Regions from separate parts of the Homo sapiens genome. Here region 1 is linked to region 2. Evidence: fine-mapped expression QTL. Tissue or cell type: whole blood. Region 2 holds a variant in brackets; the other region holds the start of a gene. All regions are shown on one strand. Distances are from middle to middle.

What was found. PIP is the estimated chance that this variant, and not a neighbour inherited with it, causes the effect.
Region 1: SOAT1 starts here. The variant in region 2 is fine-mapped to the expression of SOAT1 in whole blood (INTERVAL, PIP above 0.99).

Annotation. Positions count from the first base shown.
Region 1 is chr1:179,290,229-179,298,332 of GRCh38, reverse strand. It overlaps SOAT1 (sterol O-acyltransferase 1), which reads right to left and starts at 4,536. Exons shown (of 16, transcript NM_003101.6): 1 at 4,397-4,536. RefSeq lists an enhancer at 3,832-4,339 and a silencer at 4,552-4,741.
Region 2 is chr1:179,510,804-179,518,907 of GRCh38, reverse strand. The region is part of intron 21 of AXDND1 (axonemal dynein light chain domain containing 1); the gene reads right to left. Among named protein-coding and RNA genes, the nearest start is that of NPHS2, 61 kb to the left of the region's middle. RefSeq lists an enhancer at 817-2,016. The variant G/A (reference allele first, on the strand shown) is at 4,429.

The DNA.
Region 1 (8,104 bases), 220 kb after region 2:
GCAGATCACCAGGTCAGGAGATCGAGACCATCCTGGCTAGCCTAGCACGGTGAAACCTCGTCTCTACTAAAAATACAAAAAATTAGCCAGGTGTGGTGGCAGGCACCTGTAGTCCCAGCTACTCAGGAGGCTGAGGCAGAAGAATCGCTTGAACCCGGAGGTGGAGGTTGCAGTGAACCTCAATCACACCATTGCACTCAAGTTAGATCAAGTCACTTCACAACTTAAACCCCTTCAAACATCCTAAGTCCTTACCATGATCTAGTAACTTCTGCATTGCCTGCCACTCACCACCACCCCCTTAAACACCATCAATCTTTTTTTTTTTTTGAGACAGAGTTTCACTCTTGTTGGTCAGACTGGAGTGCAATGGCACGATCTCAGCTCACCGCAACCTCCGCCTCCTGGATTCAAGCGATTCTCCTGCCTCAGCCTCTGGAGCAGCTGGGGTTACAGGCCACCACACCCAGCTAATTTTGTATTTTTAGTAGAGATGGGGTGTCGAACTCCCAACCTCAGGTGATCCGCCTGCCTCGGCCTCCCAAAGTGCTGGGATTACAGGTGTGAGCCACCGCGCCCGGCATTTTTTTTTTTTTTTTGAGACGGAGTCATGCCATGTCGCCCAGGTTGAAGTGCAGTGGCATGATCTTGGCTGTCTCATTTTCTCTACTCATTACTTTGGCCTTCCACTGTTTCTTAAACAAGCGCACCGGCTCACGCCTGTAATCCCAGCACTTTGGGAGGCTGAGGCGGGTGGATCACAAGGTCAGGAATTCTAGACTGGCCTGGCCAAGATGATGAAACCCCGTCTCTACTAAAAATACAAAAAATTAGCCAGGGGTGATGGCAGGTGCCTGTAATCCCAGCTACTCGGGAGGCCGAAGCAGAGAATTGCTTGAACCCAGGAGGCGGAGGTTGCAGTGAGCCGAGATCGCGCCACTGCACTCCAGCCTGGGTGACAGAGCTGGACTCCGTCTCAAAAAAGAAAAGAAAAGGACAGGACATGGGATATTTCACAATTGGGGGACATTAATAGCTATGATTTGATTACATGCACAGTTTTAGGAGGAAGGACAAATAAATATATTGGAGTACACCGCCAGTAAGTTGAGGAAGTGAAAACAGTGATCATAAGACTAGTCTCTCAAGAGGTCTAGCAGTGAAGGAATCTCTAGCGTTTAGGAAGCAGGTAACAAAGTGCTGAGTGCAGTAGGTGTAGCACATATCTCATTTAACATGTCCATTTTTAAAGATGCAGGAGATTCAGAAATGCTAACAAACTTGTTCAAAGTCACAGGTAACATAAAGCTATTCCCCCCCAGGTAACAAAGCTAAGTAGACAGCTATTTATACAACACACTGATTGAAAAAGAATTTCTTAAGAATCTAATCTGTGCACGCAATTACATAATGTTCAGTGTGATAAGCATCTAACTTATCTTAAGAAAGCAAAACAAAAAGAAATGATTTGAGAAACAAATGAACTTGGAAAGACATGTCAACTTTAGCCTGCCTCCGTGTTCCCATTAATACAGCTTTCAAAAGAGCCCATAAATCTGTATCACAAATACTGAGTGCCTACTCCAGGTAAAGAACTTTGCCACATCACCCTTAGATTCAGTGGTGGAAAGGGGACACAACTGTGGATAGAATTTACAATCCAGAGCAAAAAAAATTTCCCTCTGGCACCCAAAGGTTGGCCCTAACACAACGCTACAACTTTTACATATCACAGAACTAGGTCTTTAAGTAATTAGCAAAACTAAAGAACAAGAACAAATTCTCATTTACATCTGTATGGTTAGTATAATCTCTTATTAACCAATGTGGCAAAAAAAATGCAAAACAAAGCCATCCTCTTAGAAAAATAGAACTTGGCTGGTCTTTGTTAAAAACTTTTTCCCATAGGAAAAAGGGACTCTTCCCTGGTTAATACAGTAGTTCTCCCATATCCATGGGGGATACGGTCCAAGACTCCCAGTGGATGCCTAGAACTGTGAATAACAGTGAACCCAATACACGTTGTTTTTTCCTATACATACCTATTATAAAGTTTCATTTACAGGCTGGGCACAGTGGCTCACGCCTGTAATCCCACCTCTTTGGGAGGCCGAGGCAGACCGATCATCTGAGATCAGGAGTTTGAGACCAGTCTGGCCAACACAGTGAAACCCTCCCTGTCTCTACTAAAAATACAAAAATTAGCCGGGTGAGCTGGGCGCGGTGGCTCACGCCTGTAATCCCAGCACTTTGGGAGGCTGAGGCGGGTGGATCACCTGAGGTTGGAAGTTCGAGACCAGCCTGACCAGTAAGATCTGATCAGTCTTTACTAAAAAAAAAAAAAAAAAAAAAAAAAAAAAAAAAAATTAGCCGGGCGTGGTAGCACATGCCCGTAATCCCAGCTACTTGGGAGGCTGAGGCGGAGAATCGCTTGAACCCGGGAGGCGGAGGTTGCGGGGAGCCGAGATCGTGCCATTCCAGCCTGGGCAACAAGCGCCAAACTCCATCTCAAAAAAAAAAAAAAAAATTAGCCGGGCGTACTGGGACACGCCTGTAATCCCAGCTACTTGGGAGGCTGGGGCATGAATATCCCTTGAACCTGGGAGGCAAAGTTTCAAAAAGTTAGGCACAGTAAGAGATTAACAATATACTGTATTAAAATTCACTTGAACATGGTATCTCTCGAAATGTCTTATTGTACTCTGTTTCGCACCTCAGGTAGCTGAAACTACAGAAAGCAGTTAAGTGGGGATCACTGTATTTCTCATTCAAAAGTTCCTTCCTCTGTCCACCAACTTATTCATTCTTTCTCTGGGCCAAGTGCTGGACCAGACCCTGAAAATTACAACAGGCTAAACCAGCCTTCATGAAATGCACTAGCAGAGGAAACAAAGCAACTAATTCATTACAATTAATGATCAACTTCTGCTAAGGAGAATAAAGAGTTCATGGAGGGCTTAATGGGGATGGGGTGATTTCCAGAGGAAGTGATATGTGGGCTGATATCTGAGGCAGGTATAAGAGTTGGAGGGAGGGAGAGAATACAGCATTAGAGGTGGAGGAAACTCCTAAAAGCCAAGAGAGGAAAGAAAATGAAGCTTTCCAGTAACAAAAATAAAGCCAGTGTGGCATGAACCTGGAAAGCCAGAAGGAAAGTGGGCCAAATGAACCAGAGATAGAGTGTGCTCACTCAGTAGGTCTTTATCCTAAAAGACTGCGAAACCTCAGATGCATTCTAAGCATGTGATTCACTAAAACACGTGCATTTCTAAACGATAATTCAGTGCCACAGAGCTCCTTCCAAAACCCATTCTCACACCCAGACAACGCACAGACTTCCTTAACAAGTCATTCACTGACACCGCCCAACTTTTAAAAAGAAAAAAAAAAAGCTTCAAATTGAATTCTACTTCAAGGAAGAGGAAATCAAGCAGGCTGAAAAAAAGAAAAAAGTGGTTTAAACAGGTGGCAGCCACTTAAATATTAAAAAGTGACCAACAGGCCAGGCGCGGTGGCTCACGCCTGTAATCCCAGCACTTTGGGAGGCCGAAGCGGGCGGATCACTTGAGGTCAGGAGTTTGAGACCAACCTGGTCCAACATGGTGAAACCCCGTCTCTACTAAAACTACAAAAATTACCTGGGCGTGGTGGCGCACGCCTGTAATCCCAGCTACTCAGGAGGCTGAGGCACAAGAATCGCTTGAACCCGGGAGGCAGAGGTTGCAGTGAGCCGAGATTGCGCCACTGCACTCCAGCCTTGCGACACAGCGAGACTCCGTCTCAAACAAACAAAAGTGACCAACGAACTTAACCTAAATATATATACGGAGAATAAAGTTTATATAGTTGTTTCTCACTTAGAAATAACCTTTCAATATACATATTATTTAAATTACATGACCATTAACACTTAGGGAAAACAGAAACTTACCTACATCCTAATATTTTACAATAAAACATGAGCTTGATTAAAGGTTCTGGTGCCCCTACAGATTTTCATGTCTTGCTAATACCATCCTTCCCTTCACACATTTTCTCTAAATCATTAAAAAGCTGACTTCCTGAGTGCATTTTTGGTTTCGCTTTTTAAAGAATAAAACGTCTTCTAATTCCTAACTTTCTTTACTACTGACTTGAGAGATGCCACGAGATTTGCGGAACACCAAACCAGCGTGCAGGGTTTAAAAGGCTGCCCGTGACCCGGGCGCCTGACGGTAACTTTCCCGCCCTCCCCTCCCCAACTCCCCTGCAGTCGCCGAGCCTCGCCTTCTCCGCAGCACAGCCCAGGACAAGGCCGGGCCGGAGCTGCTGCCGCCACCGCTTCTCCCTTCCCCGCGGGCTGAGGCCGGTGGACCCAAGCGGGAAGCGAGGAGAGGCGCGGGAGCACCACCGTTACCTGAGGCCCGCGCCCGGCAGCGGGCACTTCGGCCAAGAGGGCAGAGCCGGGAAGCGGTCACAGAGCAGCCAGCAGGAAGGTCGACTCCGGGAAGCTCTCCTGGCGCCCAGGGCCCGCAACGTCGCCTGCTAAGCTAAAGCGCCGGACAGCCCGGCCCCTACGCCCCCTGCCTCCGAGCACCGCTGCGTCACGCGCAGGGCCACCTCCGGCTGAGCATCCTATTGGTGGTCCCCAGGTTGCCAGGCTCCGCCCACCTCCCCGCCCCTTCCCGGGCGCGCGGGTCCCCGGCGCCAGTGCTCGCAGGCTGGCCCTGGCAACCTGCCAAGGAAGCTTCTCACCCGGACATCATGATACCGGCGACAACATCTTGCTTGACACTTCCACCCCAGCAGTAGAATGTGCAGCCAAAACGGGACTGCGACAACTCCCTGCAAGCCCGAAACGGCACCCTGCGTGGTAGCATGGAGCTGCAGGGGCGTTTGGCTCCTAGGCCGACTGGAAGAAGCCGCTTCTGGAGCTGTGGATCATTGCAGTTTGAACTGACCATCCAGGAACAACGTAGAACTAGCCAGAAGCAAGAATCGCTGGCTTATCTGCACACCAAGATTCGTGCCTTTATCAGGAGATTCCTTACCGTTTGAAAACCAGCGTCCTTCAGCAACATTCAAACTAGATAAGGGGAAAAAACCTGCACCAAATAATAAAACACACCAAATAATGGAACAACTAAGTAATATTTAAGGGCCCTTGAGGCCAGGTGCGGTGGCTCACGCCTGTAATCCCAACACTTTGGGAGACCGAGGTGGCTGGGTCACCTGAGGTTAGGATCGAGACCAGCCTGACCAACATGGTGAAACCCCGTCTCTACTAAATACAAAAAATTAGCCGGGCTTGGTGGCGCGCGCCTGTAATCCCAGCTATTCGGGAGGCTGAGGCAGGAGGATTGCTTGAACCCGGAAGCCAGAGGTTGCAGTGAGCCTAGATTGTGCCATTGCACTCCAGCCTGGGCAATAAGAGCTAAACTCCTTCTCAAAAAAAGTTTTAAAAATAAAATAAACAAAGGGCCCTCGTGACTTCATAATCAAAAGAAGAATGATGCAGAGAGATTTGGGACAGAGATTAAATACAACAGTTAATCGCTTGGAATTTGTGAAGGCAGAGGTGTACGTAAATTTAGGGTAAAGGTAGGTGAAAAGGCAATGATGAGAGGAGCAGAGACTGAAGAGTCGCACTCACAGCCTGCAAACTAATACCAGCTAGCCTGGCCTGACTAATCGCTTCTTCCCCACTCCTCCCCAGGACAAAAATCCCTGAACAAACAGATGAGGTTTAGCAGAACTGACTACTCTCTGGGTCCTTTAAACAAAGTGGATTTGTACACGTTCCCTTGGCCACCCAGCAGGCTGCACTGTTCACTCAAAGCAGAAATGGCCCTCAGCATCCAGTCGAGTTTAGTACTGGCTGTCATTGGCAGATCTGCTCCGTTTGGCCTCTTCTACAACTGTGATTGCCACGTGTGCTGACTAGTTGGTGACAGGGTCTGGTAGACCCCCAGCTGCTTCCCCTCCCCACTCCCACTAGTTATAGAGCAGTAGGAACATAGGCACTCATTTCTATTGGGTCTCTGTTGGCTACCTTCTATATACACCAAGATGACTGGCCTTTTCACTGTTTGATTCATTCATTCAAAAAATATTGATAGTATTCTTGGTGCTAGAAATACAGTGGTGAATAAACAGAAGAAGCCCCTGCACTTAGAGGCTTATGTTCTGCAGGACTAGGTATGAAAGGAAACAAACAGGTGGCTCAAGCCTATAATCCCAGCACTTTGGGAGGCTGAGGCAGGAGGATCACTTTGAGGCCAGGAGTCCAAGACCAGCCTGAGCAACATAGTGAGACTCCCTCTCTACAGAATTTAAAAACAACAACAACAACAACAACAATGACAACAAAATTTGCTGGGAATTGTGGCAGGCCCCTATGGTCCCAGCTACTCGGGAGGCTGAGATAAGAGGATTGCTTGTGGTGGGGGATGGGGGGTGAGGGACGGAGGATGCAGTGAGCCAAAAAATCATGCCACTGCACTGCAGCCTGGTCAACACAGTGGGACTCTGTCTCAAACAACAAAAGCTTATGTTTCTAATGAAGAATATAAATAATAAAACGAATAGATGAGATAATCACTGGCAGTGATAAGTACTGAGCAGAAAACAAAACAGAATGGTCAGGGAAGGATTTTCTGAGGAGATAATTCAGGAGCTAAGACCTAAATGACAAGAAGGAGCCAGCCAAGCCAACCATGGGGAGGAAGAACATTCTAGACAGAGGATAATGGGTGTCAAGGCCCCGATGCTGAACTGTGGCTGATGCTGAAGCGTGGCTGTTTGAGGAACAGGCCAGGAGGCTTGAGCATGTCAAATAGGGGTTTGAAGTTGAGTTTGGAGCATTAAGCAGGAACCTAATCACGTTGTTTGGATTTATCTGTTAAGTGCAAAGGCAAGATAATGAAGGGTTTGGGTTTTTGTTGTTTTGAGATGGGGTCTCACTCTGTCGCCCAGGCTGGAGTGCAGTGGTGCAATCAGGGCTCACTGCATCCTCTACCTCCCCAGGCTCGCTAAGTCATCTTCCCACCTCAGCCTCCCTAGTACCTGGGACTACAGGTGGGCGTCACCACACCAGACTAATTTTTGTATTTTTTGTAGAGACAGGGTTTCGCTGTGTTGCCCAGGCTGGTCCTGAACTCCTGGGCTCAAGTGATCCTCCCGCCTCAGCCTCCCAAACTGCTGGGATTACAGGCATGAGCCACGTGCCCGGCCATTGGTTTATTTTTTTTTTTAAATCAACCTATTTTATAGAGAATGACTTGAAGGGAGCAGCAATGGAACAAAAAGGAGCCGAAGAACAATACAAAGTTATTGGGCAAGTTCAGGGGGTAGATGGTGGTACCTGGACTAGGCTGGTTGGTGTGGAAATAGAAATTGAAAGATTTCAGGATATTTTCCCGAGGTGCAGGTGTGAAGAAAGGTAGTAAACGAGATGACTCCCAGGTTGTTTCCTTAAGCAATTGAGAGGATGGGGATACCATTTAGTGCAAGGGCAAAGATGATATATGATTGGAGGGACTCCAAAGCCTGTGCTCAGACTCCAAGCCTCTCCCACCACTGCACTGAAAATCTCACATTACTCAATCCTTGGAAATCAAGGTTTGGTTAAATGCAAGTGTTGACTTCATCATATTGAAAAAAAAACAGGTGTACAGAACTTGTATAGTTGCTAGTGCTAAGAATATGAATAAGACTGTCTATTGGAGACACTAATAGGTATAAGCCATTTCAAAACAATGAGATAAGTGTTACAATAAAAGGATGTTAAAGGCCAGGCGTGGTCGCTCACACCTGTAATCTCAGCACTTTGGGAGGCCAAGGTGGGCGGATCACCTGAGGTCAGGAGTTCGAGACCAGCTTGGCCAACATGGTGAAAACCTGTCTCTACTAAAAATACAAAAAATTAGCCGGGTGTGGTGGCAGGCGCCTATAATCCTAGCTACTTGGGAGGCTGAGGCAGGAGAATCTCTTGAACCTGGGAGGCAGAGGTTGCAGTGAGCCGAGATCGCGCCACTGCACTCCATCCTGGGCAACAGAGCAAGACTCCCTCTCAAAAAGAAAAAAAGAAAAAGATGTTAAAAAAAATTCTTTACAGTGGCTCATG
Region 2 (8,104 bases):
ACTAAGTATATACCTGAAGGAATATAAATCATTCTATGATAAAGACACATGCATGCATATGTTCACTGCAGCACTATACACAATAGCAATGACATGGAACTAACCTAAATATCCATCAATGATAGACTAGATAAAGAAAATGCAGTACATATACACCATGGAATACTATGCAGCCATAAAAAAGAATGAGATCATGTCATTTGCAGGGACATGGATGGAGCTAGAGGCCATTATTCTTAGCAAACTAACACAGGAAGAGAAAACCAAATACTACATTTTCCCTGTTAAGTGGGACCTAAATGATGAGACCACATGGACACACAAAGGGGAACAATACATACTGGGGCCTTTCGGATGGTGGAGGATGGACAGAGGGAGAGGATCAAGAAAAACAGCTAATGGGTACTAGGCTCAATACCTAGGTGATGAAATAATCTGTACAACAAACCTCCATGACACAAGTTTACCTTTGTGACAAACCTGCACATGTACCCCGAACTTAAAAGTCAAAAAAAAAAAAAAGAAAAAGGAAAATGTATCATAAAGCCTCAATAATTAAAATATTGTGGTAATGACCCACTAATAGACAGATCAATAGAAAAGAATAGAAAATCAAAAAATAGACTTAGGTTGAATACAGCTGTTTTTAAATGTTGGAAATATTATCATATGGAAGACAAATCAGCCCTGTTCATATTAACCAGAAAAGACTGAACTAGGACCAGTTCGCAGAAAAAGCTAAAGCTACGAGGAGACATATTACATTTAGTTCAATAGAAAGAATTAATGTTCTAATACTCAGTGCTCACCAAAAATGAATGGAGTCTTTCTGAAAGTAGTTCTCTGTCACTTCAGATATTCAAACTTAAGCATAATGATCAAGTATGGATGTTATATTAAGACTCATCATCAGATAAAAGAGAAGATCATCCTGGTGGATGGGAAGTAGGACTAGATTGTAGCTCCAACTCAGATGGACAGAGCAGTGTGTGGAGGCTCACGTGAGAAATTTTAGCTCCAGAATGACTGCAAGAACAAAGCAGGAATCCCGAGAGGACCCAAAGACCCTCCGAAGGCAGTGGACTGCTCCTGCAGGACCTGGGAGACACCCCAAATACTGTGAGTGCCCAAACTGCGAAAGTGGGAAAGGGAGACCCTCCACTCCCAAACACACCCCCACTGGGGAAACTGAAGGTCTGGTTTGCAGGAGAAGTTTCCAACCTTACCTGGAGCTGAGTCAATTTAGAGAGCCGAGCAAAATACAGGGGTAGAGGAAGCAGCAGGAAAGGCTCTGGGAGTTCGCAGGGTCCCCAAGCAGGCCATTCCTGCCTGGCACCACAGGGATCCTTCGGGAGGGCGGCCAGAGGCACAGGGGAAAACGCCCCAAGGAGAAGGAAGTCTCCAGCTGAACTTTGTAACAATTTGAATCGGGCGAGGTGCCTCCCGCTAGAACTCAGGGGAGGGCATGAATCCAGTGTACAGACTCCACAGGGGGAAGAACAACCAAAACTCTTTTCTTTTGCAGCTGGGAGGCAGGTAGCATGGGACAAGTTCTCAAGTCCTGCTTGCCCACTGCCTGGAAACAGCCTTAAGGCTGTTAGTAGGGGCATGGTGGGAGTAAGACCAGCCCTTCAGATTGTGTGGAGACCAGGTGAGGTCTGTGACCGCCTGCTTTCCCCCACTTCCCTGACAACCTGCATGACTCAGCAGAGGCAGCCATAATCCTCCTAGGTACATAACTCCACTGACCTGGGAAACTCACCCCCATTCCCCACAGCAGCCACAGCAAGACCTGCCCAAGAAGAATCTGAGCTCAGACACGCCTAGCCCTGCCCCGACCTGGTAGCTGAAGACAAAGGGTGGGTAGGGTATATGAAGAAATATACTCTTGGGAGTTCTGGGGCTCTGCCCACCACCAGTTCCTCTCCATACTATCACAGCTGATGCTCTTTGGAAAGTGCCACCTCCCGGCAGGAGACCAAGCAGCACAAAAACAGAACATTAAACCACCAAAGCTAAGAACCCTCACGAACTGTTTCACCCCCGCTGCCACCTCCACTAGAACAGGTGCTGGTATCCACGACTGAGGGAGCCATAGACGGTTCACATCACAGGACTCTGTGCAGATAACCCCCAGCACCAGCCCAGAACCAGGTAGGCTTGCTGGGTGGCTAGACCAAGAAGAGAGATAACAATTACTACAGTTCAGCTCATAGGAAGCCACATCCATAGGAAAAGGGGGAGAGTACTACATCAAGGGAGAACCCCATGGGACAAAAGAATCTGAACAAAAGACTTCAGCTCTATACCTTCCCTCTGACAGAGCCTACCCAAATGAGAAGGAACCAGAAAACCAACTCTGGTACTATGACAAAACAAGGCTCTTTAACACCCCCAGAAAATCACACTAGCTCACCAGCAATGGTTCCAAACCAAGAAGAAATCCCTGATTTACATGAAAAAGAATTCAGGATGTTAGTTATTAAGCTAATCAGGGAGGCACCAGAGAAAGGCGAAGCCCAATGCAAGGAAATCCAAAAAAATGATACAAGAAGGAAAGGGAGAAATATTCAAGGAAATAGATGGCATAAAGAAAAAGCAATCAAAACATCAGGGAAATTGGGCACACTTACAGAACTGCAAAATGCTCTGGAAAGTCTCAGCAATAGAATTGAACAAGTAGAAGAAAGAAATTCAGAGCTCGAAGACCAGGTCTTCGAATTAACCCAATCCAACAAAGACAAAGAAAAAAGAAAAAGAAAATATGAACAAAGCCTCCAAGAAGTCTGGGATTATGTTAAATGACCAAACCTAAGAATAATTGATGTTCCTCATAGTGTACTTATACAAATGGAGGGTATAGCCCACCACACACACCTTGGCTATATGATATAACCTTTTGCTCCCAGGCTATAAACCTGTACAGCATGTACTACACTGAATACTGTAGGCAACTGTAACACAATGGTTTGTATCTGTGTATCTTAACATAGAAAAGGTATAGTAAAAATACAGTCTTATAATCTTATGGGACTGCTATCTTATCTGCAGTCTGTTGTTAACTAAAACATCCTTATGCAGTGCATGACTGTATCTTGCAATTTCTTAACTTTTGCCAATATGATGAGTAAAAAAAATGAACCCTCATTTGTACTTTAACTTACATTATAATTTTTTTGTGGATTAAAAAAAAGAATAATTGATGTTCCTGAGGAAGAAAAGAAATCTAAAAGTTTGGAAAACATATTTGGGGGAATAATTGAGGAAAACTTCCCTGGCCTCGCTAGAGATCTAGACATCCAAATACAAGAAGCACAAAGAACACCTGGGAAATTCATCGCAAAAAGATCATCACCTAGGCACGTTGTCATCAGGTTATCTAAAGTTAAGACGAAGAAAAGAATCTTAACATCTGTGAGACAAAAGCATCAGGTACCCTATAAAGGAAAACCTAACAGATTAACAGCAGTTTTCTCAGCAGACACCCTACAAGCTGGAAGGGATTGGGGCCCTATCTTCAGCCTCCTCAAACAAAACAATTATCAGCCAAGAATTTTGTATCCAGCGAAACTAAGCATCATATATGAAGGAAAGATATAGTCTTTTCCAGACAAACAAATGCTGAGAGAATTCGCCACTACCAAGCCACCACTACCAAGAACTGCTAAAAAGAGCTCTAATCCTGGAAACACATCAAAACAGAAGCTCTTTAAAGCATAAATCACACAGGACTTATAAAACAAAAAAAATGAAAATTTAAAAAGCAAAAATAAAAAACAAAAAACCAAGGTACAAAGTCAACAAATAGCACGATGAATGGAATGGTATCTCACATCTCAATAGTAACATTGAATGTAAATGGCTTAAATGCTCTACCTAAAAGATACAAAACTGCAGAATGGATAAGAACTCACCAACCATCTGCTCCCTTCAGGATACTCACCTAACACATAAGGACTACATAAACTGAAATAAAAAGGTTGGAAAAAGCATTTCATGCAAATGGACACCAAAAGCGAGCAGGGGTAGCTATTCTTATATCAGACAAAACAAACTTTAAAGCAACAGCAGTTGAAGAGACAAAGAGGGACATTATATAATGGTAAAGGCCTTGTCCAACAAGAAAATATCACAATCCTAAACATATATGCACCTAACACTGGTGCTCCCAAATTTGTAAAACAATTACTAACAGACCTAAGAAATGAGATAGACAGCAATACATAACAGTGGGGGACTTCAATACTCCACTGACAGCACTAGACAGGACATCAACACAAAAAGTCAACAAAGAAACAATGGATTTAAACTATACCTTGGAACAAATGGACTTAGCAGATATATACAAAACATTTTCTCCAACAACCACAGAATACACATTCTATTCAACAGTGCACAGAACCTTCTCCAAGATAGACCATGTGATAG[G/A]CCACTAGATGAGCCTCAATAAATTTAAGAAAATTGAAATTATATCAAGCACTCTCTCAGAGTGGAATAAAATTGGAAATCAACTCCAAAAGGAACCTTCAAGACCATGCAAATACATGGACGTTAAATAACCTGCTCCTGAATGATCATTTGGTCAAAAACAAAACTCAGACGGAAATTAAAAATTCTTTGAACTGAACAACAATAATGACACTACCTATCAAAACCTCTGGGATACAGCAAAGGCTGTGCTAAGAGAAGAGTTCATAGCATTAAATGCCTATATCAAAAAGACGGAAAGAATACAAACCGACATTCTAAGGTCACACCTCAAGGAACTAGAGAAACAAGAACAAACCAAACCCAAACCCAGCAGAAGAAAGGAAATAACCAAGATCAGAGCAGAATTAAATGAAATTGAAATAAACAAACAAAAAAAATACAAAAGATAAATGAAACAAAAAGCTAGTTCTTGGAAAAGATAAATAAATTTGATAGACTATTAGCAAGATTAACCAAGAAAAGAACAGAAAAAATCCAAATAACCTAATTAAGACACAAAACTGGACATATTACAACTGACACCGCTGAAATACAAAAGATCATTCAAGGCTACTAAGAACATCTTTATGCACATAAACTAGAAAACCTAGAAGAGATGGATAAATTCCTGGAAAAATACAACACTCCTAGCTTAACTCAGAAAGAATTAGATACCCTGAACAGACCAATAGCAAGCACCAAGATTTAAATGGTAATTAAAAAATTACCAACAAAAAAAAAGTCCAGGACCAGAAGGATTCACAGCAGAATTCTACCAGACATTCAAAGAATTGATACCAATCCTTTTGACACTATTCCACAAGATAGAGAAAAAAGGGAACCTTCCCTAATTCATTCTATGAAGGCAGAATCACCCTAATACCAAAACCAGGAAAGGACATATCTAAAAAAGAAAACCACAGACTGACATCCCTGATAAACACAGACACTAAAATCTTTAACAAAATACTCGCTAACTGAATCCAACAACATATCAAAAAGATAATCCACCATGATCACGTGGGTTACATAGCAGGGATGCAGGGATGGTTTAACATACACAAGTCAATAAATGTGATACACCACATAAACAGAATTAAAAACAAAAGTCACATGATCATCTCAATAGATGCAGAAAAAGCATTCAACAAAATCCAGCATCCCTTTATGATTAAAACTCTCAGCAAAATCAGCATACAATGGACATAACTCAATGTATTAAAAGCCATCTATGGCAAATCCACAGCAAACATAATATTGGATGGGGAAAGCTGAAAGCATTCTCTCTGAGAACTGGAATGAGACAAGGATACCTACCCACTCTCACCACTCCTCTTCAACATAGAACTGGAAGTCCCAGCCAGAGCAATCAGACAAGAGAAGGAAATAAAGGACACCCAAATTGGTAAAGAGGAAGTCAAACTGTCATTGTTTCCTGACAATATGATCATTTACCTTGAAAACCCTAAAGACTCTCCAGAAAGCTCCTAGAAATGATAAAAGAATTCAGCAAAGTTTCCGGATACAAGACTAATGTACACAAATCAGTAGCTCTTCTCTACACCAACAGCTACCAAGCGGAGAGTCAAATCAAGAACTCAACCCCTTTACAACAGCTGCAAAAATAATAAAATACTTAGAGATATACCTAACCAAGGAGGCAAAAGACCTCTATAAGGAAAACTACAAACACTGCTGAAAGAAATCATAGACAACATAAACAAATGGAAACACACCCCAAGCTCACGGATGAGTAGAATCAATACTGTGAAAATAGCCATACTGCTAAAAGCAATCTACAAATTCAATGCAATCCCCATCAGAACACCACTATCATTCTTCACATAATTAGAAAAAAAAATTCTAAAATTCATATGAAACCAAAATAGAGCCCGCATAGCCAAAGCAAGACTAAGCATGAAGAACAAATCTGAAGGCATCGCACTACCTGATTTCAAACTATACTATAAGGCCATAGTAACCAAAACAGCATGGTACTGGTATAAAAACAGGCATATAGACCAATGGAACAGAATAGAGAACCCAGAAATAAATCCAAATACTTATAGCCAACTGATCTTCAACAAAGCAAACAGAAACATAAAGTGGGGAAAGGACACCCTTTTAAACAAATGGTGCTGGGATAATTGGCTAGCCACATGTAGGAGAACGAAACTGGATCCTCATCTCTCACCTTATACAAAAATCAACTCAAGATGGATTAAGGACTTAAATCTAAGACCTGAAACTATAAAAATTCTAGACATAACATTGGAAAAACCCTTCTAGACATTGGCTTAGGCAAAGATTTCATGACCAAGAACCCAAAAGCAAATGCAATAAAACAAAGATAAATAGCTGGGGCTTAATTAAACTAAAGAGCTTTTGCACAGCAAAAGGAACAGTCAGCAGAGTAAACAGACAACGCACAGAGTGGGAGAAAATCTTCACAATCTTTACATCTGACAAAGGACTAATATCCAGAATCTAAAACAAACTCCAACAAATCAGCAAGAAATGAAACAAACAATCACATCAAAAAGTGGGCTAAGGACATGAATAGACAATTATCAAAAGAAGAGACACAAATGGCCAACAAATATATGAAAAAAAGCTCAGCCTCACTAATGATCAGGGAAATGCAAATCAAAACGACAATGCAATACCACCCTACTCCTGCAAGAATGGCCATAATCAAAAAATCAAGAAACGGTAGATGTTGCCATGAATGCGGTCATCAAGGAACACTTCTACACTGCTGGAGGGAATGTAAACTAGTAGAGCCACTATGGAAAACAGTGTGGAGATTCCTTAAAGAACTAAAAGTAGAATTACCATTTGATCCAGCAATCTCATTACTGGGTATCTACCCAGAGGAAAAGAAGTCATTATAGGAAAAAGATGCTTGCACACGCATGTTTATAGCAGCACAATTCACAATTGCAAAATCATGGAACCAACCCAAATGCCCATCAATCAACAAGTGGATAAAAATCTGTGGTGTATATACATATACACACACACACACACACACACACACACACCCCATATACCATATACTATGTATATATTATACCATATATATGTGGTAGTGTGTGTATATATATATAAAATCATATTATGTATATGATTGGAATATATATATATATACACACACTACCATATTATATATGTATATATATGATGGAATGCTACTCAGCCATGAAGAGGAATGAATTAACAGCATTTTCAGTGACCTGGATGAGACTGGAGAAACTTTTTTTTTTTGTGGGGGACAGAGTCTCACTCTGTCGCCCAGGCTGGAATGCAGTGGCGTGATCTCGGCTCACTGCAGCCTCCACCTCCTGGGTTCAAGCGATTCTCCTGCCTCAGCCTCCTGAGTAGCTGGGACTACAGGAGACTCTTATTGTAAGTGAAGTAGCTCAAGAATGGAAAACGAAACACCATATGTTCTCACTGATGTGTGGGAGCTAAGCTATGAGGATGCAAAGGCATAAGAATGATACAATGGACTTTGGGGATTTGGGGGGAAGGGTGGGAGGGGGGCAAGGGATAAAAGACTACAAATAGGGTGCAGTGTATACTACTCGAGTGATGGGTGCACCAAAATCTCAGAAATCACCACTAAAGAACT